Linked DNA regions of Homo sapiens. The protein of the gene in region 6 interacts with the protein of the main gene of each other region in a pairwise test. Each region holds a gene or a part of one and is shown on either strand. Other genes may lie near its edges. The genes, in order: ZBTB8A, EDC3, RUFY1, FKBP6, LCE1E, PIAS2 and CREB1.

What was found.
Region 1: the proteins of PIAS2 (region 6) and ZBTB8A interact in binary tests that used the Homo sapiens proteins (3 or more experiments, as listed by UniProt).
Region 2: the proteins of PIAS2 (region 6) and EDC3 interact in binary tests that used the Homo sapiens proteins (3 or more experiments, as listed by UniProt).
Region 3: the proteins of PIAS2 (region 6) and RUFY1 interact in binary tests that used the Homo sapiens proteins (3 or more experiments, as listed by UniProt).
Region 4: the proteins of PIAS2 (region 6) and FKBP6 interact in binary tests that used the Homo sapiens proteins (3 or more experiments, as listed by UniProt).
Region 5: the proteins of PIAS2 (region 6) and LCE1E interact in binary tests that used the Homo sapiens proteins (3 or more experiments, as listed by UniProt).
Region 7: the proteins of PIAS2 (region 6) and CREB1 interact in binary tests that used the Homo sapiens proteins (3 or more experiments, as listed by UniProt).

What each region holds. Positions count from the first base shown.
Region 1 is NC_000001.11:32,591,427-32,594,926, forward strand, and holds part of ZBTB8A (zinc finger and BTB domain-containing protein 8A), read left to right. Parts: intron 1-1,504; 5' UTR 1,505-1,505; coding exon 1,506-2,328; intron 2,329-3,500. UniProt on the Homo sapiens protein: May be involved in transcriptional regulation.
Region 2 is NC_000015.10:74,668,525-74,672,024, reverse strand, and holds part of EDC3 (enhancer of mRNA-decapping protein 3), read left to right. Parts: intron 1-250; coding exon 251-570; intron 571-3,500. UniProt on the Homo sapiens protein: Binds single-stranded RNA. Involved in the process of mRNA degradation and in the positive regulation of mRNA decapping. May play a role in spermiogenesis and oogenesis.
Region 3 is NC_000005.10:179,595,554-179,599,053, forward strand, and holds part of RUFY1 (RUN and FYVE domain-containing protein 1), read left to right. Parts: intron 1-350; exon of another isoform or gene 351-1,008; coding exon 1,009-1,128; intron 1,129-1,268; exon of another isoform or gene 1,269-1,408; intron 1,409-2,699; exon of another isoform or gene 2,700-2,802; intron 2,803-3,138; coding exon 3,139-3,268; intron 3,269-3,500. UniProt on the Homo sapiens protein: Activating adapter involved in cargo sorting from early/recycling endosomes. Regulates retrieval of proteins from endosomes to the trans-Golgi network through interaction with the dynein-dynactin complex.
Region 4 is NC_000007.14:73,331,161-73,334,660, forward strand, and holds part of FKBP6 (inactive peptidyl-prolyl cis-trans isomerase FKBP6), read left to right. Parts: intron 1-496; coding exon 497-616; intron 617-3,500. UniProt on the Homo sapiens protein: Has an essential role in spermatogenesis. It is required to repress transposable elements and prevent their mobilization, which is essential for the germline integrity.
Region 5 is NC_000001.11:152,785,130-152,788,926, forward strand, and holds LCE1E (late cornified envelope protein 1E), read left to right. Parts: upstream 1-1,127; 5' UTR 1,128-1,178; intron 1,179-2,148; 5' UTR 2,149-2,170; coding exon 2,171-2,527; 3' UTR 2,528-3,297; downstream 3,298-3,797. UniProt on the Homo sapiens protein: Precursors of the cornified envelope of the stratum corneum.
Region 6 is NC_000018.10:46,806,113-46,809,507, forward strand, and holds part of PIAS2 (E3 SUMO-protein ligase PIAS2), read right to left. Parts: 3' UTR 1-3,395. UniProt on the Homo sapiens protein: Functions as an E3-type small ubiquitin-like modifier (SUMO) ligase, stabilizing the interaction between UBE2I and the substrate, and as a SUMO-tethering factor.
Region 7 is NC_000002.12:207,578,462-207,581,961, forward strand, and holds part of CREB1 (cyclic AMP-responsive element-binding protein 1), read left to right. Parts: intron 1-1,059; coding exon of another isoform or gene 1,060-1,105; exon of another isoform or gene 1,106-3,360; coding exon of another isoform or gene 3,361-3,485; exon of another isoform or gene 3,486-3,500.

The DNA.
Region 1 (3,500 bases), on a different chromosome or scaffold from region 6:
CAGGCTGGTCTCACACTCCTGGGCTCAAGCTGTCCTCCTGCCTCTGACTCCCAAAGTGCTGGGATTATAGGCGTGAGCTACCACCCTGGGCTGGAGTCTTTGTTTAATGTCTGATAACACTTTTAGACTGAAAACAACATGAAGGCAAAAATCAAATGTGTTGGTTCAGCATATAGCAGAAGGCCTGATTTATTGAAGATGCTTGGCTGGATGCAGTGGCTCATGCCTGTAATCCTAGCATTTTGGGAGGCTGAGGCCAGAGGATCGCTTGAGCCTAGGAGTTCAAGACCAGCCTGGGCAACATAGACCTCATCTCTATATTTAAAAAATGAAAGAAGATGCTCAATAAATTTTGCTAATAAAACAAGTAATTTTCTAAAATCTAATAACGGTCTAGTTGTTTTTTTGTTTTTTGTTTGTTTGTTTGTTTGTTTTTTCAGACAGGGTCTCACTCTGTCGCCAGGCTGGAGTGCATGGCGCAACCTCGGCTCACTGCAACCTCTACCTCCCAGGATCAAGCGATTCTCCTGCCTCAGCTCCCGAGCAGCTGGGACTACAGGCACGCACCACCATGCCCAGCTAATTTTTGTATTTTTAGTAGAGACGGGGTTTCACCATGTTGGCCAGGATGGTCTCCATCTCTTGACCTTGTGATCTGCCCGCCTTGGCCTCCCAAAGTGCTGGGATTATAGGCGTGAGCCACCACGCCTGGCTGATAACAGTCTAGTATTAAGTGATATGTTGAAACCTATTATCTTCTGTGTCTTGGCGATTATATTCTCCAACAAGAAAGTGTTCTTAATGGAATAAAAGAGGCTTCTGATTATTATTTTAGTTGACTCACCTTAGAAAAGGATTGTTCATTTTGGGAGGCTGAGGCAGGAGGATTGCTTGAGCCCAGGAGTTGGAGACCAGCTCGGGTACGTGGTGAGACCTTATCTCTATTAAAAACAAAAAAACAAAAAAAAACAGGCATGGTGGTGCACACCTGTAGTCCCAGCTACTTGGGAGGCTGAGGTAGGAGGATCACTTGAAACCAGGAGTTCAAGGTTGCAGTGAGCTTTTTTTGTTTGTTTGTTTTTGGGGTGTTTGTTTTTTGAGATAGAGTCTTGCTCTGTGGCCCAGGCTGGAGTGCAGTGGTGTGATCTTGGCTCACTGCAACCTCCACCTCCCAGGTTCAAGCGATTTGTCTGCCTCAGCCTCCTGAGTAGCTGGGATTACAGGCACCCGCCACCACGCCCAGCTAATTTTTGTATTTTTGGTAGAGACAGGGTTTCGCCATGTTGTCCAGGCTGGCCTCGAACTCCTGACCTCAGGTGATCTCCCCCGCATTGGCCTCCCAAAGTGCTGGGATTACAGGAGTGAGCCACTGTGCCCAGCCACAGTGAGCTTTGATCACACCACTGCACTGCAGCCTGGGCCACAGAGCAAGATCCTGTCTCAAAACAAAATAAAATAATTGTAATGTAGGTTTTGGTAACCACATGTGTCTTTTCCTCTTCAGAATGGAGATCTCCTCTCATCAGTCTCACCTCCTGCAGCAACTGAACGAGCAGCGCAGGCAAGATGTATTTTGTGACTGCAGTATTCTAGTTGAAGGGAAGGTCTTCAAAGCACATCGAAATGTATTATTCGCTAGTAGCGGCTACTTTAAAATGCTTCTTTCTCAGAATTCAAAGGAGACGAGTCAGCCAACCACAGCTACATTTCAGGCTTTCTCCCCTGACACTTTTACAGTTATCTTGGACTTCGTATATTCTGGCAAACTGTCTCTTACTGGTCAGAATGTCATAGAAGTGATGTCGGCTGCTAGCTTCCTTCAGATGACTGATGTCATAAGTGTATGTAAGACTTTTATTAAATCTTCCTTAGACATTAGTGAGAAAGAAAAAGATCGCTATTTCAGTCTCTCAGATAAAGATGCCAATTCTAATGGTGTAGAACGTTCCTCTTTTTATAGTGGTGGCTGGCAAGAAGGAAGCAGTTCTCCACGTTCTCACCTAAGCCCAGAGCAAGGAACAGGTATAATAAGTGGAAAATCTTGGAATAAGTATAATTATCATCCAGCCTCCCAGAAGAATACTCAACAACCCTTGGCCAAGCATGAACCAAGGAAAGAGTCCATTAAAAAGACCAAACATTTGAGATTGTCACAGCCTTCTGAAGTTACTCATTATAAGTCAAGCAAACGAGAAGTACGAACATCTGATTCTTCCAGCCATGTTTCCCAGTCTGAAGAACAAGCACAGATTGATGCTGAAATGGACTCTACTCCTGTTGGCTATCAGTACGGTCAAGGATCTGATGTCACATCCAAAAGCTTTCCAGGTACCCAAAAAGAGCATAAGTCCCCTCATCCAGGTTCCAAACTGCTATATTAATCAGTCTACTGTCAAAACACCCTTAGTTTCAGGTGCTCTAAGCAGTTGAAGCAAGTGATTTTTTTCAAAAGTTCTATTTTTGTAATGAAATTTATTTAGTAAGGATAGGCGTGGTGGCTCACGCCTGTGATTCCAGCAGTTTGGGAGGCTGAGGCGGGCAGATCACCTGAGGTCAGGAGTTCGAGACCAGCCTGGCCAACATGGCAAAACCCCGTCTCCACTAAAAGTACAAAAAAATTAGCCGAGCATTGTGATGTGTGCCTGTAATCCCAGCTATTCAGGAGGCTGAGGCAGGAGAATCACTTGAACCCGGGAGGCGGAGGTTGCAGGGAGCTGAGATTACACCACTGCACTCCATCCTGGGCGATAGAGTGAGACTCTGTCTCAAAAAAACAAAAAAAGAAGAAATTCATTTCATAAAACGTGGATTTAAATTTTTTAATTCAAAATAATATTGAATAAATATAATGACAATCAAAATAATAAGAATACTAAGGGTCAAAACCCATGATTTTCCAAACCTGTATCTGTGGGTGGTTAGATTACTCTTAAATGTTTAAAGCTCTTTTCTAAATAGTTCAATCCCTGAGACACATATTTTCACTTTAAATAGTTTTTTTTTTTCCTGTGTACTTACTCAGAGGAGTATTTAGCTTATTAAGATACAAATACAGGCCGGGCACAGTGGCTCACGCCTGTAATCCCAGCACTTTGGGAGGCTGAGGCGGGCAGATCATGAGGTCAGGAGTTCAAGACCAACCTGACCAACATGGTGAAACCATGTCTCTACGAAAAATACAAAAATTAGCTGGGAGTGCTGGCGCATGTCTGTAATCCCAGCTACTCAGGAGCCTGAGGCAGAAGAATCGCTTCAGGAGAACCCAGGAGGCAGAGGTTGCAGTGAGTGGAGATTGCGCCATTGCACTCCAGCCTGGGCAACAGAGCGAAACTCTATCTCAAAAAAAAAAAAAAAAGCATAGCAGTCTGAATTTACCCAACTTTCTAAATATATCAAATACCGAAGTTAAAGTTCCATACTTAGGATTACATTGACAATCTAGTCTTAATAAAATTTCTTTCGTCTCTTACTTTTTGGGCTAACCAACTCCTTGTGAATTC
Region 2 (3,500 bases), on a different chromosome or scaffold from region 6:
CTCCCAAAGTGCTGGGATTACAGGCGTGAGCCACCGTGCCCGGCCAATAGCCTCTTTTTAAAGGCTAGCATTGTGTCAGTTGGATAGTTGGTGGCTGACCCCTGTCCTTAAGCACACAGCCCCCTTTCCTAGCCTCTGATAACTCAATAAAATGCAGTCCTGCAAAGGGGTAGCTGTTTGCTAATGATCTCAGTTTCATCATTCTTACCACTATTATAATTTTGAGACTTGGCTTTTTTGTGTATTTCAGGGCAGGTGACATTACGGAGTTAAAAATTCTGGAGATACCAGGACCTGGAGACAACCAACATTTTGGAGACCTTCATCAAACAGAATTAGGCCCCTCTGGTGCTGGCTGCCAAGTGGGCATCAATCAGAATGGCACAGGCAAGTTTGTCAAGAAGCCAGCCTCTTCCAGCAGTGCCCCTCAGAATATCCCTAAGAGGACAGATGTGAAGAGCCAGGATGTTGCCGTTTCCCCGCAGCAGCAACAGTGCTCAAAGAGCTATGTCGACAGGCACATGGAATCCTTGAGTCAGTCCAAAAGTTTCCGTCGTCGGCACAACTCCTGTAAGTAGGGTCAAGTTGATATTTCTTCTCAATCTGGTGTTTCAGGGCTATAAGCCATAAGCACTGCTGCTCTTTAAACAAATCCTTTGTTATTCCAATAAAATGGATGCTGGCTGAGCGTCACAGAAATACAACATGGTTCTCTTCCTCCAGGCCTCATTCCTCAAGATGTTAAGGGAAAGGAAATAAGCTGTTAGGGATGCCTGTGAGCTTCCTGCCCTCTCTTACCACTTCCTTCAGGAAAAGTCTGCCCAGAGTTTACTAACAGTGATGTTTTAAATCCAGGAACTACTGGGCGTGGTGGCACGCATCTATAGTCCCAGCTACTTGAGAGGTTGAGGCAGGAGGATTGTTTGAGCCCAGGAGTTCAAGGCTAGTCTGGGCAAAATAGTGAGATTCTGTTTCTGAAAAAGAAAAAAAAAAAAACTTAAATCCTGTTACTGATGTTGGTAGTAGTGTTTGAGTTGAACCTGCACTTGGGCTGTTCCAGAGGATTCTTGAGTAACTTTTCTTCCTGTGATTTGAGTCTCATCCTCAGAAGAGAGGAGGGGACTGATCCAAACATCTCTGTGATCTTTGATTTTCTAGCAGACAATTTTTAATTTGCTGTATTTGTTCCTACTGACACACCAAGAAGAATGTGCATTGGTCTCTGTTGCTGCCCAGTTTTGTTTGATACTAACACATTATTAAATGCCATTTGCTGATTATAAAACCATAGTTGTGACCAGGCACGGTGGCTCACACCTGTAATCCTAGCACTTTGGGAGGCTGAGGCGGGCAGATCACCTGAGGTCAGGCGTTTGAGGCCAGCCTGGCCAACATGTTGAAACCTCGTCTCTGCTAAAAATACAAAAATTATCCGGACGTGGAGGTGCATGCCTGTAATCCCAGCTACTTTGGAGGCTGAGGCAGGAGAATCCCTTGAACCCAGGAGGCAGAGGTTGCAGTGAGCTGATATTGTGCCACTCCAGCCTGGGCGATAGAGCGAGACTCTGTCTCAAAAATAAAATAAATAATATAAAATAAAACCATAGTTGTGTTGGTGGTATGATGGTGAGCATAGCTGCCTTCCAAAACCATAGTTAATTCACTAGAACTGTTCTTCTCCAACATATTTACTAGAATAATGTTACAATAGCGAATCATAACATTCACTGGAATCTGTTATGCTCCTTAAATTAATATGAATGTTGTTTTAAAAAATTACTTCCAAATGCCAAACTATTCTTATTTTACTTAGATGGTTTTGTACTCACAGATGGTAGCAGAATGTATTAGAAATTTTAAGTGAGAGGCTGGGTGCAAGTGGCTCACACCTGTAATCTCACTACTTCAGGAGGCTGGGGCAGGTGGATCGCTTGAGCCCAGGAGTTCGAGACCAGCCTGAGCAACATGGCAAAACCCCATCCCTACAAAAAAAAAAAAAAAAAAAAAAAAAAAATTAGCTGGGCGTGGCAGCGTGCACCTGTGGTCCCAGCTACTCAGGAGGCTGAGGTGGAAGGATGGCTTGAGCCAGGGAGGCGGAGGTTGTGATTAGCCAAGATCATGCCACTGCACTTCAGCCTGGGTGACAGTGTGAGACTGTCTCAAAATGAACAACCAAAAGAAATTTTAAATGAGTATTCATTAACTCATTTAAAATTATAAGCTAGAGTCATGCTATGGCAATACCTTCTAAAAGGCACAATTTAGAGTGAGCTAGGTCTCTCTAGACCCCACTCAGAAAGTTTATTACATAAAATTCCGGATACTTCTTGCTACCATTGTTGCTCCTCACACTGTGGTCCTGGTGGCAATGTAGTAAGGTTTTAGTGTGCTGGGTGAATTCTATTAGTAGCTTGTGGTGTGACACCTGTGTCAGGGGCCAACATTTTAAGTTTTGGAGATGCCTGATTCAAGTGAATAAACAACTAAATTAAAACTAATTTTTTTTTTTTTTTGAGATGGAGCCTTGCTCTGTTGCCCGGGCTGGAGTGCAGTGGTGTGATCTTGGCTCACTGCAACCTCCACCTCCCATGTTCAGGTGATTCTCCTGCCTCAGCCTCCCTAGAAGCTGGTACTACAGGCACTTGCTGCCATGCCCGGCTAATTTTTTTTTTTTTTTTTTTGAGACAGAGTTTCGCTCTTATTGCCCAGGCTGGAGTGCAATGGCGTGATCTTGGCTCACCGCAACTTCCGCCTCCTGGGTTCAAAAGATTCTCCTGCCTCAGCCTCCCGAGTAGCTGGGATTACAGGCATGTGCCACCACGTCTGGCTAATTTTGTATTTTTAGTAGAAACGGGGCTCCATGTTGGTCAGGCTGGTCTCAAACTCTCGGCCTCCCAAAGTGCTGAGATTACAGGCATAAGCCACTGCGCCCGGCTAATTTTTGTATTTTTAGTAGAGATGGGATAATGCCATGTTGCCCAAGCTGATTTCGAACTCATGACCTCAGTTGATCTGCCTGCCTCGGCCTCCCCAAGTGCTGGGATTACAGACGTGAGCCACTGCACCTGGCCTAAAAAAATGTTTTAATGTATGTAATATACAGTTTCAAGGTAGTTTCCTTTGGTGCATATGAAACAACTATCTGAAATGACGATGTTTGCAAATATGAGACTGAAATTCAGTTGTGACTTCTGTATCCTTAGAAAAACTGTAGAATGCTTGGATAGAAAATGATTCTTTCCATTTAGACTTTAACCTTTTTCTTTCTTTCTTTCTTTCTTTCTTTCTTTCTTTCATTCATTTTTGAGACAGGGTCTTGCTTTGTCACTCAGGTTGGAATGCAGTGATACGATCACAGCTCACTACAGCCTTGAACTCCCAGGCTCAAATGATCCTCCCACCTCAGCCTCCTGAGTAGCTGGGACTACAGGTGTGTGCCACCATACCTGGCTAGTCTTTTTACTTTTAGTAGAGACAAGGTCTCACTATGTTGCCCTGTC
Region 3 (3,500 bases), on a different chromosome or scaffold from region 6:
TTTTTTTTTTTTTTTGAGCCAGAGTTTCGCTCTCATTGCCCAGGCTAGAGTGCAATGGTGCGATCTCAGCTCACCGCAATCTCTACCTCCCAGGTTCAAGCAATTCTCCTGCCTCAGCCTCCCAAGTAGCTGGGATTACAGGTGCCTGCCACCATGCCCGGCTAATTTTGTATTTTTGTAGAGATGGGGTTTCTCCATATTGATCAGGCTGGTCTCGAACTCCCGACCTCAGGTGATCTGCCCACCTAGGCCTCCCAAAGTGCTGGGATTATAGGCATGAGCCACCACACCTGGCCAGCTACCGTTTCTTTAATGACAATACCAAGTGCTGATGAGGACACGGAGCTAATGGATCTCTCATACTTTATTGGTAGGAATGCAAAATGGTGCAACCACTCAGGAAAACAGTTTCTCAAGAAGCTAAACGTCCTCTTACCATATGATCCAAATAGAAATGAAACTTATGTCTACACCAAAACTAGTACATATGTTTATAGCAGCTCCGTTCATAACTGCCAAAAGCTAGAAGCAATCCCAATGTTCTGCATTGGGTGATGGATAAACAAAGTGGTACGTCTGTGCGGTGAAGTATGACTCAGCCGTAGAAAGGAATGAACCACTGCCCTTTCAGGACGTTCAGAGAGGAAACAAAAGGCATGAACCATTGATACACATGGAAACTTGGATTGATCTCCAAGACATTATTCTGAGAAAAAGTCAGTCTCAAGGTTATATAATGTATAATTACATTGAGATTACATTCTCAAAAAGCCAAAGCCATATTGTTGCAGGACAGATGAGTGGTTGCCAGGGGCTGAGGTGGGGAGTTTTGGGAGTGGTGGGACCGTCCTGTATTCTGATTGTGGTGGAGCTGAATCTCCACGTGTTAAAACTCACAAGAGTTAATTTTACTGTATGGTAATTTTAAAAATGAATTTCAGCCAGCAAAAGTCATCCTTTCCTTACAAAGATTTGCTTCATTTGCACTCTTGCTGGTGTCGCATCCAGGTTGCAGCACTCGGAGCGGGCGAGGCAGGGGGCTGAGGAGCGGAGCCACAAGCTGCAGCAGGAGCTGGGCGGGAGGATCGGCGCCCTGCAGCTGCAGCTCTCCCAGCTGCACGAGCAATGGTAGGGGCCCTGCAGGGAGCCTGGGCTGGGGTGTGGCTCAGGAGGGACTGGGAAGAACTGGGGACAGGTGGTATCCTGCTTCAGCACGAACGGGAGGAGGGGGGGCGGGGGGGCAGGTGGTATCCTGCTTCACCACTCACCCCTGCAGGGTTCGTATGTTATCCCTAGGGAGCTCCCTCCCCACAGGGCTCCTCACGTGGTCCAGCTCGCCTCCAGAAGATCTGGCCACTCTCAAACCATGGTACCAGGTCACAGCCTGTATCACCCTTAACCACCCTTTCTAAAAAGAAACAGCTTTGTCAGTGTTGAACAGAAAGTCACCTTTCACCTAGCCTTTGCTGATGCAAGCTTCATATAATTTTGTGCACAGTTCATCTACAGATTTTTTATTTTTTAAGTCTCACTCTGTCATCCAGGCTGGAGTGCAGTGGTGCAGTCTCAGCTCACTGCAACCCCCACCTCCTGGGCTCAAGCGATTCTTGTGCCTCAGCCTCCTGAGTAGCTGGGACTACAGGTGTACATCAACACACCCGGCTAATTTTTGTGTTTGTGTTTTGTTTTGTTTTTTTTTTGAGACCGAGTCTCACTCTCTTGCCCAGGCTGGAGTGCGGTGGCGCGATCTCGGCTCACTGCAACCTCTGCCTCCCGGGTTCACGCCATTCTCCTGCCTCAGCCTCCCGAGCAGCTGGGACTACAGGCATCAGCCACCACACCTGGCTAATTTTTTGTATTTTTAGTAGAGACGGGGTTTCACTGTGTTAACCCAGGATGGTCTCGATCTCCTCACCTCGTGATCCTCCCATCTCGGCCTCCCAAAGTGCTGGGATTACAGGCGTGAGCCACTGCGCCCAGCCTAATTTTTGTATTTTTATTAGAGACAGGGTTTTGCCATGTTGGCCAGGCTGGTCTCAATCTTCTGGCCTCAAGTGATCCACCCGTCTCGGCCTCCCAGAATGCTAGGATTACAAGTGTGAACCACCGTGCCTGGCCTATAGATTTTTTGAGATAATATATATGCCAAGTTAAAAGCCTGATGTTGAGAGAAGAGAGAAGAGACATCTTTATTCCCACAAAGAGAGAGCAGACTCCAGGCGGTCCAGCAGTGCCCCCAGGGCCACTCAGCTGGTAAAGGGCAGAGTCAGCTTCAGGCTGAGGCTCCCTCCTGGCCTTCTCCCTCCAGGATCCTTCATTGTCAGTCTGGCTGTAGGTTGTAGAAAGCAGAATGAGGCCGGGCGCGGTGGCTCACGCCCATAATCCCAGCACTTTTGGGAGGCCGAGGCAGGGAGATCACGAGGTCAGGAGTTCAAGACCAGCCTGGCCAACATGGTGAAACGTCATCTCTACTAAAAATACAAAAAATTAGCTGGGCGTGGTGGCGTGTGCCTGTAATCCCAGCTACTAGGGAGGCTGAGGCAGGAGACTAGCTTGAACCCAGGAGGCAGAGGTTGCAGTGAGCCAAGATTGTGCCACTGCACTCCAGCCTGGGCGACAGAGCGAGACTCCGTCTCAAAAAAAAACAAAAAGCAGAATGAATTGGCCAGTGAGGTGGCTCATGCCTGTAATCTCTGCACCTTGGGAAGCTGTGGCGGGAGGATCACTTGAGCCCAGGAGGTCGAGGCTGCAGTGAGCTGAGGTTGCGCCACTGCACTCCAGCTGGGGTGACAGAGCTAGACCCTGTCTCAAAAAAAGAAAAGAACGAATTTTGAGCTTCCTTTCCTCAGGTCTCCATGTCGGGAGGGTTCTGCTTATGTGGTCTAAGTGTTCTAGAGCTCTCTTCCTTCTCCCCTGCGTAAGTGTCAAGTGTGTGCCTGCAGGCTTTTCTCTCCCTGGTTCCTGCTCTTTCTTGTGGAAGGGCAGGTGACCCTGGAGGAGAGGGAAGCGTTGCCGAAGGCTTTAGATGCTCAAGAGGCAATTCAGAGACTTCCCTGTTTCCTGGGCGGTGAATTGGGTTGTGAATCTTCCGTGAAAGTCTCCCACTGAGACTAACTCAAGTTCATTTTGGGAAAACAGCTCAAGCCTGGAGAAAGAATTGAAATCAGAAAAAGAGCAAAGACAGGCTCTTCAGCGCGAATTACAGCACGAGAAAGACACTTCCTCTCTACTCAGGATGGAGCTGCAACAAGTGGAAGGACTGAAAAAGGTGAGGTGGGCCATCCCGGGAGAGGAGAGCCTCTGGCAGCCTCCAGAAACCCCTAACATGCTCCGGGCAGGCTCCTCTCCCCGCACCCTTTGTGTGGGGGCCAGGCGGCTCCAGGGTGTGGGGAGGCTGTTAGGGAGCTCCTGTTTTAGGAGCATAAGACAAAGACAAATCATAAACCACTAAGCCTGCTGGCAGCTCAGATAGAGGCAAGTGCCATGAAGAGAATAAAGCA
Region 4 (3,500 bases), on a different chromosome or scaffold from region 6:
CTCTGAAGATGGCCAGGGCAGAGCATCATGACCATAAAGACTGCCAGGGCCCTGAGCAAACCAAGACCTGTTCAGTGCTTGGTGGCCAAATAGTGGTTTTGAGCACTGACTTCTGTGCTTGGCAAGTTCCGTCAGTTTTTGATTCCATGGGACACTGCTTCCTCAGAGAACATCAGGGGAAGACTGAAGACGTAGACTTCCTTCTGGCTCTAGGGTGTAAAATGGGACAGGTTATAACACTGGTGTGGCTTCTGTCAGATTCAGAGGTGACTCCAACACAGAAGGCTGTAAACAGAAGTGCATGATCTGAAAAAGAAGAGCTCACAGCTGTAGTAACACTTCCTTTCTTTCAATTACTATTTTTTTAAATGGAGACATGTTCTCACTATGTTGCCCAGGCTGGTCTCGAACTCCTGGGCTCACGTGTACTAACACTTCCATTGTGGCATTACTGCTTTTGGTTTCCTTGCTGAATATTCCTGTCTCTGGTCCTCAGGAGCAGCAAGACCAATTTCCACTTCAGAAGGTCCTGAAAGTGGCAGCTACGGAACGGGAGTTTGGCAACTACCTTTTCCGCCAGAATCGTTTCTATGATGCCAAAGTGAGATATAAAAGGGTGAGAATGCTTTGAAAGTTAAGTGTAAGTTTAGATCCTGAAAACTTCCTTGTTTAAAAAACACAGATTTTGTTTTGTTGTGATTTTTGTTTTGTTTTGTTTTTGAGACAAGAGTGTCGCTCTGTCGCCCAGGCTGGAGTGCAGTGGCGCAATCTCAGCTCACTGCAAGCTCCGCCTCCTGGGTTCACGCCATTCTCCTGCCTCAGCCTTCCAAGTAGCTGGGACTACAGGCACCCGCCACTTCACCTGGCTAATTTTTTTGTATTTTTAGTAGAGACAGAGTTTCACCGTGTTAGCCAGGATGGTCTCAATGTCCTGACCTCGTGATCTGCCCACCTCGGCCTCCCAAAGTGCTGGGATTACAGGTGTGAGCTACCGCGCCCGGCAAAAAACACAGATTTTTGTCTTTCTCCCTACTTTCTATGAGCAGCCATTAAGAAAAATCTCATTTAAAAAAATCCTCATGCCAGGCCAAGGCAGGTGGATCACCTGAGGTCAGGAGTTTGAGACCAGCCTGGCCAACATGGTGAAACCCCGTCTCTACTAAAAATACAAAATTAGCCGGGCGTGGTGGTGGGTGCCTGTAATCCCAGCTACTTGGGAGGCTGAGGCAAGAGAATCACTTGAACCCAGGAGGTGGAGGTTGAGGTTGCAGTGAGCCGAGATTGTGCCGTTGCATTCCAGCCTGGGCAAGAAAGGCAAAAAAACTCCCATCTCAAAAAAAAAAAAAATCCTCATGCCAAAGGGATAAGTACTGGAGAGGGGACTAACGGGGGGATAAGGGCTGAAGAGGGGACTCTCGAGGGGATAAGGGCTGGAGAGAGGACTCACGGGATTGGGAGGCACCTGGGAATGTTCTGTGTTTTGACGTGGTTCTTGGGTACATGGGTGTGTTCAGGTTGTGAAAAACATTTGCCTCTGTATATGTACTTGAACTAGAAGTGTTTAGAATTTCCATCTCACTGCTCTAAAACAATTCAGTTTATTAACTTTTAAAAATTCTCATCCCAGTGCTTATTAGGTCCTCCACCAACCGATTTCTCCACCCCTTTGCCATCATCATTTCATGTCTCTGACAGTGGAGGCTCATTTGGCGATTCTAGCCTGAGGCAATTGCAGCCTCATCAAGCCTCCTGTTGTGATTTTGCTTCTTGTGTAGGTTATGCTGAGCTGTTTTCTGTTTCCTTTTTAATTTTATTCATTCAACAAACATGGCTGGACGCAGTGGCTCATGCCTGTAATCCCAGCACTTTGGGAGGCTGAGGCGAGTGGATAGCTTGAGGTCAGGAGTTTGAGACCAGCCTGGGCAACGTGGCGAAACCCCGTCTCTACTAAAAATACAAAAATTTGCTGGCATGGTGGTGGGTGCCTGTAATCCCAGCTACTTGGGAGGCTGAAGCAGGAGAATCACTTGAACCCAGGAGGCGGAGGTTGCAATGAGCCAAGATCGCACCACTGCACTCCAGCCTGGGCAACAGGGCAAGATTCTGTCTCCAAAAAAAAAAAAAACAAAACACCACACATGCGTGTGCTGTCTCTGGAACATACTCATATAGGCCAAATGTTGCCGACCCTGTCACCCAATATCTATTCCCCCTTCTCCTAACAGAACCTCCCATTTCACTCAAAGCATCAGTGTACTAATTAAAAAACTACATCTTCCCAGCTTCCCATGAGCTTAGGGTGTCCCTGTAACAAGGGTCTAGCCAAGGAGACATAAAGGGAAACCTCTGGAGGGTCTTCCAGAAAGCTCTTAACATAACACAAGCACCAGACTCTTCTCCCCTCCCTCCTTCCCACCCAGGTGACCCCGCAATGCGTGGCCAGGGGAGAATCTCCCTGGGGCCCGCCACACAGCTCTTGTCCTGGGGCTGCCCTATAATGCTAGTTTGTGGATTTCCTGTTTTTTTCTCAACTTACTCCTTTGTTTTAACAGAGTATGTTGATGTATGTCTAAAATATTCTTGGTTTTTAAATACATATTTGTCTAGAGTTGTTATTAAAAAGTCTTTTGGCTGGGCACGGTGGCTCATGCCTGTAATCCCAGCACTTTGGGAGGCCGAGGCGGGTGGATCACCTGAGGTCAGGAGTTCAAGACCAGCCTGGCGAACATGGTGAAACCCCGTCTCTACTAAAAATACAAAAATTAGCTGGGCGTGTTGGTGGGTGCCCATAGTCCCAGCTACTTGGGAGGCTGAGGCAGGATAATTGCTTGAACCCGGGAGGTGGAGGTTGCAGTGAGCCAAGATGGCATAATTGCACTGCAGCCAGGGGAATAAGAGTGAAACTCCATCTCAAAAAAAAAGGTCTTGCTAGTTCTGAGCTCAAAGCTAACAACAACAACAAAAAAATCTTACTACTACTTAGGTTCTTTATTCCTTTCTACGTGACCTGTTTTTTCTTCTGTAGAGACGAAGATCGTTTTTCCCCGGCATTCCTAAATTTTACGGTGATGTGCCTCTGCGTGTGTGTATCTTTTCATTCAGGAAACTTTTCCTCCACTCTGGGAAACTTTCTTGAGTTATTTCTTTGATAATTTACTCTTGTTCCCTCTGCCCTCTTTGTCTGGAACTCCTATTATCAGACCTCCTGCACTGAGCTTCTGGCTGCTGTCCCTCCCCCCTCCCCACCTAGTTTCCATCTTTTCTCCTGTTTGTGTCATGTATGGAAGCTTTCCTTGACTTTTTGCCACCTCTTCTGATGAATTTTTCATTTAAAACTGGGGGGCCAGGCACAGTGACTCACACCTATAATCCCAGCACTTCAGGAGTCCAAGGTGGGAGGATTGCTTGAAGCCAGGAGTTAAAGATCAGTCTGGGCACCATAGCAAGATCCCATCTCTACAAAAAATAAATTTTAGAAAATTGAAGGGCTATTTGTTCTT
Region 5 (3,797 bases), on a different chromosome or scaffold from region 6:
AAACCAAACAACCCCAAATCCCAGATTTATACCCCACCCCACCCCCCATCTTGGAAAGCAGCTATGACTTCAAAATACCTATTCGTTTATTGACGCATATGTAGGCATCACATTTTTTAAGGGTCTATCATGTCACGGACCTTCTACCAGACTTTTTCCTTATATTATTTTACTGGCTGGCTCAATACCCTGTGAGATATCTGTATCACTATCTGTACTTTTAAACTGAGGAAGAAACAAGAACAACAAACTGAAAAGGAGTCAAGTTAAGTAATTTTCACAAGTATACACAGCTACTAGGTGGCAGAACCAGGGCAGTTTTCTAGCCTGTCTGACTGCAAGCTCTTAAATATAATGGAATGCATCAGGGGTCAGCATTTTTTTTTTTTTTAAAACTCTAAGAGATTAAATGTTTTAGGCTTTGGGAACCATAGCATCTCTATCCCAGTTACTCAGCTCTCCATTTTAGTGTGAAAAGTACCACAGACACAATCAATAAAATAATAAATGTGGCTCATTATCTAAGTCAGAGAAATAAAACTTTATGAAGCCTGAAATTTGAATTTAATATAATTTTTATATGTTGTAAAATATTTTCCTCTTTTGCTTTCTTTTCTCAACAATTTAAACGCATTAAAAACCTTGGAGGCTATCCAAATCAGACAGCAGGCAGATTTGGGCTGCAGACAGAAGTTAGCTGACCCCCAGTAGCCTGGAGGATTATTTAGACTTAAGAGGGAAAATGTGAAAGAATCTCTGAATTACAGTCCAAACTCAGCTGCCAGAAGCCAATGAGTTCCATGGGCAACAAGAAAGAACAAAGGAATTGCAGGCCAGTGTGCAAAAACGAGAACTAAAAAGCGGTCAAGGCTGGGATTTACCAGGAAGAATGGGGCAGAAGGTCCTGTATAAACTGTCCCCACCCTTTGTTTCTAAGCAGCCCTACTCCTATCTAGCAGCAGGTGCCCTCAGCCTGGGGAGGGAGGCAGGTGAGGAGCTGCTAGTCACCACCTATCACAGGACCCACGTGGGTATCAGGGGGCAAGTCCTCTCATGCCCAGGCCCTGTCTCACCACAGGAGGCAGAAACCCAGGCTGGGATAAAAGGGCTCAGGGCCAGAGCACCCCATTCACTCACTTCCTGAGGTGCCGAAGGACCCTGTGCTGCCTGTGACTTTGGTATGTGTCCTCTGGGAACAGAAGCAGGGGATTCCACAGAGGGATGCTCAGATCAGGTTAGGAGGAGTGGTGGGCAGGGCTTCCATGGGGGAGGAGACTGGTAACAACTGGGACAGAAAGAATAACTGGTTGGCTGTGCCTTTGGGCTCCAAAAAAAACTGCTGTAGGGTGGAGCAGTCCTCTCAGGATGGGAAACCTTAAAGCACAGAGACCTGGGGCACTCTGACAGACCACAGGAAGGAAGCCCACCTCTGAAAATACAACCTTGTCCCTGTCTGCAAGGAAGAGCTGGAGCCATGGACAGGGGACCAGAGGCTCCTTTGGGCTTATGGAACCGACACTTTTATGGGTCTGGGATTTGTTCACAAATTTCCCAGGTTGATTAGGACACACCAAACCTGAGACTCACCATGCCCACCCATCAGCCTGAGCAGGTGGTAAGCTGAGGAAATCTGAGCTCCAGCCTAAGATCAGGAGGCCAGGGTTCAAATTCCAGGGCTGCAGGAATTTATGGGTTTGTCTGTCTCTGCTTCAACAAAGTAAGTTTACTGAGCCAGTAATATCCAAGATCTTTTGTAGTATGGATATTGCAGAGTAAAACTACCTTGCAAGTTACAAAAGGTAGTGATTACTTTTTCTCTTTAAGAAATAATTTTCCCTAAATGACCTATAAATCATATAATTTCAGGGTGTGAAGACATATTTGGAATAATTTCCTCCTTCACTTATAACACTTTGGACTGTCAGATGCATTTTGTAATATTGTTTGGTCTTAGTTTACAATTTTGTGTAGCAGATAACACACAAGGGTATCCTGAGCTTGCAAAGAGATGATGAGAGAATTTGGGGAAAGTATTGGAAGTGAAACTACTGGACATGATGTTTCCATAATTACAAGTCATGCTAAGAGTGTCAGAGGGGCAGAGGTGGCCTCTGCCTAGGTCTGATTTTCTGTCTGACTCTCCCTCAGCTCCTAAGTACCTACTGCCGAGATGTCCTGCCAGCAGAGCCAGCAGCAGTGCCAGCCCCCTCCCAAGTGCACTCCCAAGTGCCCTCCCAAGTGTCCCACCCCCAAATGCCCTCCAAAGTGTCCCCCTAAGTGCCCTCCAGTCTCTTCCTGCTGCAGTGTCAGCTCCGGAGGCTGCTGTGGCTCCAGCTCTGGGGGCAGCTGTGGCTCCAGCTCTGGGGGCTGCTGCAGCTCTGGGGGAGGTGGCTGCTGCCTGAGCCACCACAGGCACCACAGGTCCCACCGTCACAGACCCCAGAGCTCTGACTGCTGCAGCCAGCCCTCAGGGGGCTCCAGCTGCTGTGGAGGGGGCAGCGGCCAGCACTCTGGAGGCTGCTGCTGAAGTGGACCTTGACTTCCTCTTCCTTCTGATTCTGCCTGAATAGCTGAGAGGTTCCAGCAAAAGCTTGAAGTCTTGCCTGGAGAATCCCTCTGCTCTGGTGTCAGGAAACCCAAAATCTTTCTCCTTAATGGCATTTAGAGACTTTCTTCTGCAGATCCATGGCTGCCCTGGGAACTCCAAAGCACACACCTACTTCCTCCCCAGCTCACGCTGCTGTATTCTGTGCTGCCTGAACTGAAGAAATAAAATCCAGAATCTGCCCCCCAACTTGCTACCAGCCTGCTTGATTTTCCTGTTTGTGTCATCCTTGTTCTGCTCCCCTGTGTCTGCTGGTGGCTGCTGAGGCCTTGGTGGACAGAGGATGGGGAAAGGGGTCAGGAGGAAAAAGCTTGCATTTCTGTGTGTTTTGTGTTTTTTCTTCTTTCGGTGTTTTCCTTTTAAACCAAGGGACTGAAATAGCATTGAGAAATATTTTTCTTTCAAATTCTGGTTCCTTTCACCTATGTAACCGCATCCCTCAGGCATGGCCAGGAGGCCGACTTCATCCTCCTTCCCACTATCACCTCTTCATTCTTGTGTTCCTCGTTCCCCACTCCTTCCACTAACAATCTCCCTGGACTCCTCCTCCATACTGTATGTGCATGCATTCACACACACATATGTACATGCACATAGATGAGATGAATCTGCATTGTAAAAAAATTAAATCACATTTAGTGCTGTATAATTTGCATGCAATAAAATTCAATAAAATTAAATGTAAAATTAAATGAGTTTTGTCAAATATTTATAGCTGCATAACTATAATTGCAATAACACACCAAAAATGTAGTTAATTTATTGAGAAGATTTTCAAAATAACACAAAATCTAGAATACATAAATGAAAATGTGGATACAGTTAACCACATTAAAATGAAATTCTAAGTATCAGATAGTACCACTAAAAGCAAGGAAGGGTAAAAAATTAACTTGGGAAAATTATAATATATGTGATAGGGAGATGACTCATATTGGTAAGAAACATAGAGTTCATAAAAACTGAGTAAATAAATGTTCCTATAAAAGTTTTGGCAGAATTCATATTTCATTCACAAATAATTAATGAAGAAAACCAATAACTTCTGAAATTAGATTTTAAAAGCAATTTAATCTCATTAATAAAAAGAGCATAGCTCATCTTTTGGGGATGAGAACTCATTATTGGTTCACAAGCTTTCTGTGAGCATTTTAGCTTACAAAACATTGTTGTTGAAGCTATGTGGAAATGA
Region 6 (3,395 bases):
GTCTAGATTCCCATATCAGTCTCCTAGATAGCACAGCTAATTAACGTCACTTCAGTTTACGCAGAGAGCTTTTGGGGTAAGTCTAGGTCAGACTCCCAAGTCCACTACTCATTCACTGTGACCTTGGGAAACTTACCTAAACCTGTTTCATTTGTAAAATGGGGAATAACACCACTTTCCTCTGAGAAGCCATTGCAAGAATGAGACATTCTTGGAAAATTCTTTGCACAATGCCTGTTACTTTTTTTTTTTTTTTTTTTTTTTTTTTTTGGTCTCACTCTGTCACCCAGGCTGGAGTACAGGGTCATGATCCTGAGTCACTGCAACCTCCGCCTCTCAGGTTCAAGCAATTCTCATCCCTCAGCCTCCCAAGTAGCTGGGATTACAGACATGAGCCATCATGCCCTAATTTTTTGTATTTTTAGTAGAGATGGGGTTTTACCAAGTTGGCCAGGCTGGTCTCAAACTCCTGGCCTCAAGTGATTTGCCTGCCTTGGCTTCCCAAAGTGCTGGGATTACAGGCATGAGCCACCATGCCCAGCTTAAGAATTCTTGATTTTTGGAACCTTGATTATAAGCTGCCTGATGTCTGGAACCAAAACTTCTGTAACACTCTATTCCACGTGTACTTACAAAACACTCTAAACATTTATTAAACAGTTTGATGAAGGCCAAAATAAGAGGCATATGCTATTCTACAACACGGTAACACTCTTCGTCACTTAAAATAATTAAGCTTTGAGAACACAAAATAAAGCTTTTTAAAAAAGCCATTCAGAAATAGGAAGCAGTTTGGGAAATGATTGTGCTACGCCAATCAAGAAAATGTTGTACCTCAAACATCTGAAGGTAGCAATCTGTTTTTTTCTTTCCCTGCAGCTACCCTTATTGGAAACATAAGGGAATATAAAGTGAAAACAGGCAATGTTTGCCTGTTTTTATAGCTTTTAGCCTTACCACTTTTCAGTTTGGGGATGGAATGCCTTTGGCTCAGTAGATTCTACTGGCTTTGGGGAGCTCAGAAAGGCCATAATGGGGCCTACAGGAAGAGGAAAAAGAGAGCTGACCTCTTAAGGGCAGGCCTTAGGTACAAGAGGCTTTTTTTAAAAAGTGACAAAACTTTTGAACTAAAGATGGAAAACGTAGTCTGACAAAGAATATTTGTGCAACTTTACAGTGCCAGTAAAATCATGGGAAAAGCTTGGATAGCCATACGTAGGTGTTTCTGAAACATGTCAGATTTTATATATATATATATATATATATATATATTTTTTTTTTTTTTTTTTTTTTTTTTTAGAGAGTCTTGCTTTGTTACCCAGGCTGGAGTGCAGTGGCACAATCTCGGATCACTGCAAATCCTCCGCCTCCTGGGTTCAAGCGATTCTCCTGCCTCGGTCTCCCAAGTAGCTGGGACTACAGGCGCCTGCCATCACACCCACCTAATTTATGTTTTTGCTAGAGATGGGGTTTCACCATGTTCCATGTTAGCCAGGCTGGTCTCCAACTCCTGACTTCAGATTATCTGCCCGCCTTGGCCTCCCAAAGTGCTGGGATTACAGGCGTGAGCCTCCATACCCGGCCCATGTCAGATATATTTAAAACTAAGAAAGCTTGGGAAAATCTCTGCCAATGATCTCCATATCAGTTAACCCCGTTCCATAGAGTCAGAAAGGCAGAGGGTCTTAGTGCAGATGCCTGCATAAAGATAAAACGTTGCATGTTCTTGGAAAATATGGCTAGACCACCCTTCCCATACCATCTAGCTGCAGTATAAATTAACATACCCATGTGGAAAAGTGGTATGAATCAAGAACTACAAAAGTGTTCATATACCCTTGACTAGAAATTCCACCTCCAGTATTTTATCCTAAGAAAATAATTTATACACAAAGACATTCATTGTGGCATTATGAGATATAATCTAAACTGTTCAAAATAAGTAAAGGTTATATGAAACATGGCACATCCATAACAATGGAGTACCATAAAATTAATAATAGTTGACACAGTTTTAATGACATGGAATAATGCCTGTAGGTTGCGGGGAAAAACCCCAAGATATAAATTACACTGAGAATGATGAAACTAAGTAAAAATATGCAGAAGTAGCAAAGACAATGGCAAGGAAGATGCAAAAATATCAAGTGATTTTTTCTGGTGACAGAATCATAGGCAATTAATTGTTATACTTTTCTGTATTGTCTAAATTTTCCACAATAAGCATGTACTACTGACATAAACAGAAAAAACAAACATTATTCAACCAGGCAAGCATTAAAGAATGGACATTGGGTACAGCTTTATTTATTTCTTTTAGGAATTGCAGGTTCCTAACAAAGTAGGGGTGAGGGGGGTGTTACAAACCAGTCACTAGGCAGGAACATTAGACTCCAAAAGCAGAGAAATGCTTAATTTTCTTCTACCTGTTTCACCACATTCATGTAGAACTGTAGTAAAAAAGATGGTGAATCAGGCTGAATCAATCTAAATAACAACTTAAGGCTCCCAAATCACATGAACCTAGGACCACTAAATCCAATGTCAGACGTGTTTAAATGGTGCACTGCTCTACATTTTTCTATTATGCAAAGAGCTAGAAAATAATGGTAGTGTCATTATGACATTCCATGAAAATGAAGAAAATCTTTCAGGAAAAATTAAGAAAATAAAAATGTTTACTAAAGAAAGAATGGTCCGGCTAAGTGCTTTTTTTTTTTTTTTTTTTTTTAAACCAACTGAAGGCCAGAGAAATGAAAGGCATACCCGTGAATTAAATTAATGCTTTAAAAAAAATTGACTTTACTTAAAATACAAACAAACGTCAACTAATGAATACTTTATTGGCAGAAAAAAAAGACAACTTGGCTGGAAATGCTGAGTGTCTTGGACTGGTCTGAAGGAAGAACATCTGAAAGGTCTGAATGTCAAAGTCAGAACAGTCTCTGGTCAATCCTACTTTGCTTAAAATCCAACATTTTACCTTTCTTCAAATTCCTCAAGACTAAGGAAAACTTGGTTTTATACCAAGAATTATGAATCAACCTACACTTGCTATCCCTTACATCACATTTTCATTCTAGCTTTTCTGAAACACATTACCAGATAAATGCCATATAACCTAAATTCACCTCAATGCTTTCATTTTGCCTTTACAATTACCTTAGGACAGATGCCAAGTTTTTATAACTTCAGGCCAGAAAATCCTCAAGTGGCTCACCTAATTGTCAGAAAGTGAGTGAGTGACAACAGACCTCAGGCACGAAACTATTTTCAGCACCAATTACACTGTGGGGGGTTACCAGAACAAGAAAAGGCCTTCATAGTTCTAAGTGAAGAAAGATAAAAACATTTTATTTTGGCCAGGCGCGGTGGCTCACGCCTGTAAATCCCAG
Region 7 (3,500 bases), on a different chromosome or scaffold from region 6:
AAGCAGGGCTTCCAAGTCCTAGCCCTATCCCTCCATTTTGGGAGAAGGTATTAACCTTCTGTACCTCAGTTTTGTAAAATGGGATTCCAGCACACACCCAAAGTATTGTTGTAAGAGTCAAGTAAGAGAATCCTTTGAAAGCACTTTGTAACTGTAGTGCTCTGTTGAAATGGGTTTGTGTGTGTGTGTGCAATTTCACAGCTCAGATCAGCTTTTTTGTTCCTAAAATATTCTTAGCTGTCACAATGTTAGTAAATTATATCTAAACTCTGAGAAATGGCAGAGATTTTTCTGGGATATTAGAAAAAGAGTTGGAAACAAGCCAAGTGACTTTTTTTTTTTCTCCCGAGATGAAGTCTTGCTCTGTCACCCAGGCAGGAGTGCAATGGTGCAATCTCAGCTCACTGCAGCCTCCACCTCCTGGGTTCAAGCAATTCTCCTGCCTCAACCTCCCGAGTAGCTGGGATTACAGGTGCCCACCACCACGCCTGGCTAATTTTTGTATTAGTAGAGACATGATTTCACTATTTTGGCCAGGCTGGTCTCGAACTCTTGACCTTGTGATCCACCCTCCTCGGACTTCCAAAGTGCTGGGATTACAGGTATGAGCCATGGTGCCCAGCCCTCAAGTGACTTTTATTTGTGCTCCATCCATCTGTGATTTTGAGTATTTAAGTTTTACTAAAGAGAAGCATAAAAGCTGCATTCATAATTCAAATATATTTTAAAATATAAATTAAAATCTGTAAATAAAAATTAAAATATTTTCAGTTTTTAAAAATGTTTATAAGGAAACCTTTAACTTAAAATTAGAAGCAAGTCTGATCAAGAAGTCTCAAGCACAGGCTGAGTAGTAATATTTAAGACAACACTGCTTACTAAAGAAAAGAGTTCAAAGCAAACATAGGAGCAGAATCAAAAAATAAATCCTTTTGATTATAAAAAACAACAGAAGGACTTCTGTTTATGTCTATGTAGTTTGGCTGTGTGGAACAAAATGTTTACCCCCGTTGACTGGCAGACCAAATTTCCTTTTTGTTCTATTTATTTTTCTTTCAGATTTATGACCACTGCCACCAACAAGTTAGGAACAGGGCACACATAACTACAGTTCCTACCAGGCTTTGCTTGCCTGAGATCTTCAGGGAAACTACCCGACTTACCATGGACTCTTTCATAACATTACTTTGCTTAGATATAGTTACCCTACTCTTTAAAAAGGAAACTTCTCATTGATTCTGCCATAGTTCCTTTTCCCCTTTGTTACCAGATTACTGCTGCTTTTACTTTTTCAGCCTCCATTCACTGGAATCTGGCTTCTATGACTAGCATACCGCTCATATGTCTATAAAAAGGTACAAATTCCCTCCCACTTGGCAAATCTAGTATTTTCTTTCATTTAATTTTAACTCTATGGAGTATTTGACACTTTCGACTTCTCATTACTCTAAACTCTTCCTTGGCTTACTTCACCTGGTTTTCTGGCTACTTTTCAAATTTTTCCTTTGAACCTTCATCCATACCCATGTATTTCAGGCATTACTTTATATGCTGATACTTCTTAATTCTGTATATTCTGGCTTTGACCTTTCTGCCGAGTGCTATTTATTAAGCTCCAGTATATATTATTTTATTAATTCTACCTACAGTGAGGTAGAAGCTTATCCCCACTTTAGAGGAGGAGAAGGTAAATATCAGAAAATTCAAATATTTTGCCAAAGGTCACACACTTTATGAGATTAGTAGAACTGAAATTTGAACCCATATCTGGCACCAAAACCTGTAAACATGCTACTTCACTGATTCCAGTATGCAGCCATCTTCTGCTGTGCCTCTCAAACCAGAGCACATGGCAGTATGCTAGGGATGTGTAGCCTAAGGAGGTGAACGTGGAGTGCTTTCCTTGAATGTTCATTTTGCTAAAATATTTGAGAGAAATAAACCTTATTTTTAAGGTAAAATAAGAGTTTTAAAAGAAATTTATACCAGCAGTGGTTTTGCTGCACCCCCAGAGTCTCCATATTTGGTTTCCTCTTCTAGTGTGGCTATTTCAGTGGAAAAGTTAAGAGAAGCACACTCCTAAGCATGCTCACTAGGATGAATTTCCCTTATGCACATCAAACACAGCCTATCTTAAAGTTTGATAGGAAAAGATTGTAATCCAAAAAATTCATCACTATCCAAATTGCCATTTATTTCAAGATGAAGGTAAGTGGTAAACATTCTAAAAGAAAGTGTAGACAGCTCTTCTGTTAATTTGTGTTGCTACAGTAACAACCACGAATCTCAGTGTCTTAAAATTTCTTCCTCACTTCTGTTACATTTTGGCAGCTGCAGGTCAGTTGCTGTGGCTCTCCTTCATGTGCCCATCTGGGTCTAGGATCCTGGGCTAGATAGAGCAGCACGTCTTTGAGAAAAGGGCAATGCTTTTGAAAGCATTTGCTTGATTTTGGTGAACGTTACATCTACTCGTGATCTGTTAGCCACAGCACAGGCAAGGACAAGCCCAAAGTCAGTGGAGTGGGAATGAACTCTTCCTACAGGAAGTGGAGAGTGAAAAATTGTGAAAGTAATACAATCTATCACCTTTGCCTTTATGTAACTTTACATTGTAGGGGGATTTTAAAAGCAGATTCCCTAAAGGCAGAAGTAACAAAGGAAAAGGTTAAATGGATTTGACCATATAAAACTATAAACCCCCTATTTAGGAAAGTAAAAGATAAAGTAGCAAACATTTTAACAAATAATGTCAGAAGACTAATGAGTTGAGGGATATAAATAGGCAGATTCTTAGAAAATGGATAGGGTAAAAAATTTGAAAAATTCTAAAAAAATTAAAATGTATTTGATATGAATTAAAATATATCCATTCAACTATATACAACTAGCCATTAAGAGTAAATAAAGGTGTATTTTTATTAAGATGGGAAGATGTTCTCGGACAAAAGCAGGTTACCAAAGAGTATTTACATTACTATCAGGTTTTTTAAATTTATTATTACACAAGTAAAACATGTTCATTATAAGTAAATTAAGAAACATTACCTAAAAATTGAATTACTTCTAATTTCACCATCTAAAATGTTAACATTCTAAAGTCAGTTTTTTTACTCAAACCAGTACAAAGGTAAATATACATTTTTAATATATTTTTAAGTAATTTTAAACTTACAAAGGAGTTTTAAAAATACAGAGTTCCGGATACCCTTCATCCAGCTTTCTCTAATCTTAGTATATTACATAACCAGGGTACATTTATCAAAAATAAAAGTACATTGGTATAATACCATTAACTGAATTATACATTTTATTTCCCCAGTTTTTTTACTTACATAATCCAGTTTGGGTACCATATCGCATTTAATTATAGTCTCCTTCAGTCTGTGAAAGTTTGTTTCCTTGTCTTTGATGGCCTTGTAACTTTTGAAGAGTAGTGATCTGTTTTCTTTTAGAATATCCCTCAGTTTGCATTTGTCCAGTGTTTTCTATGGATAGATTGA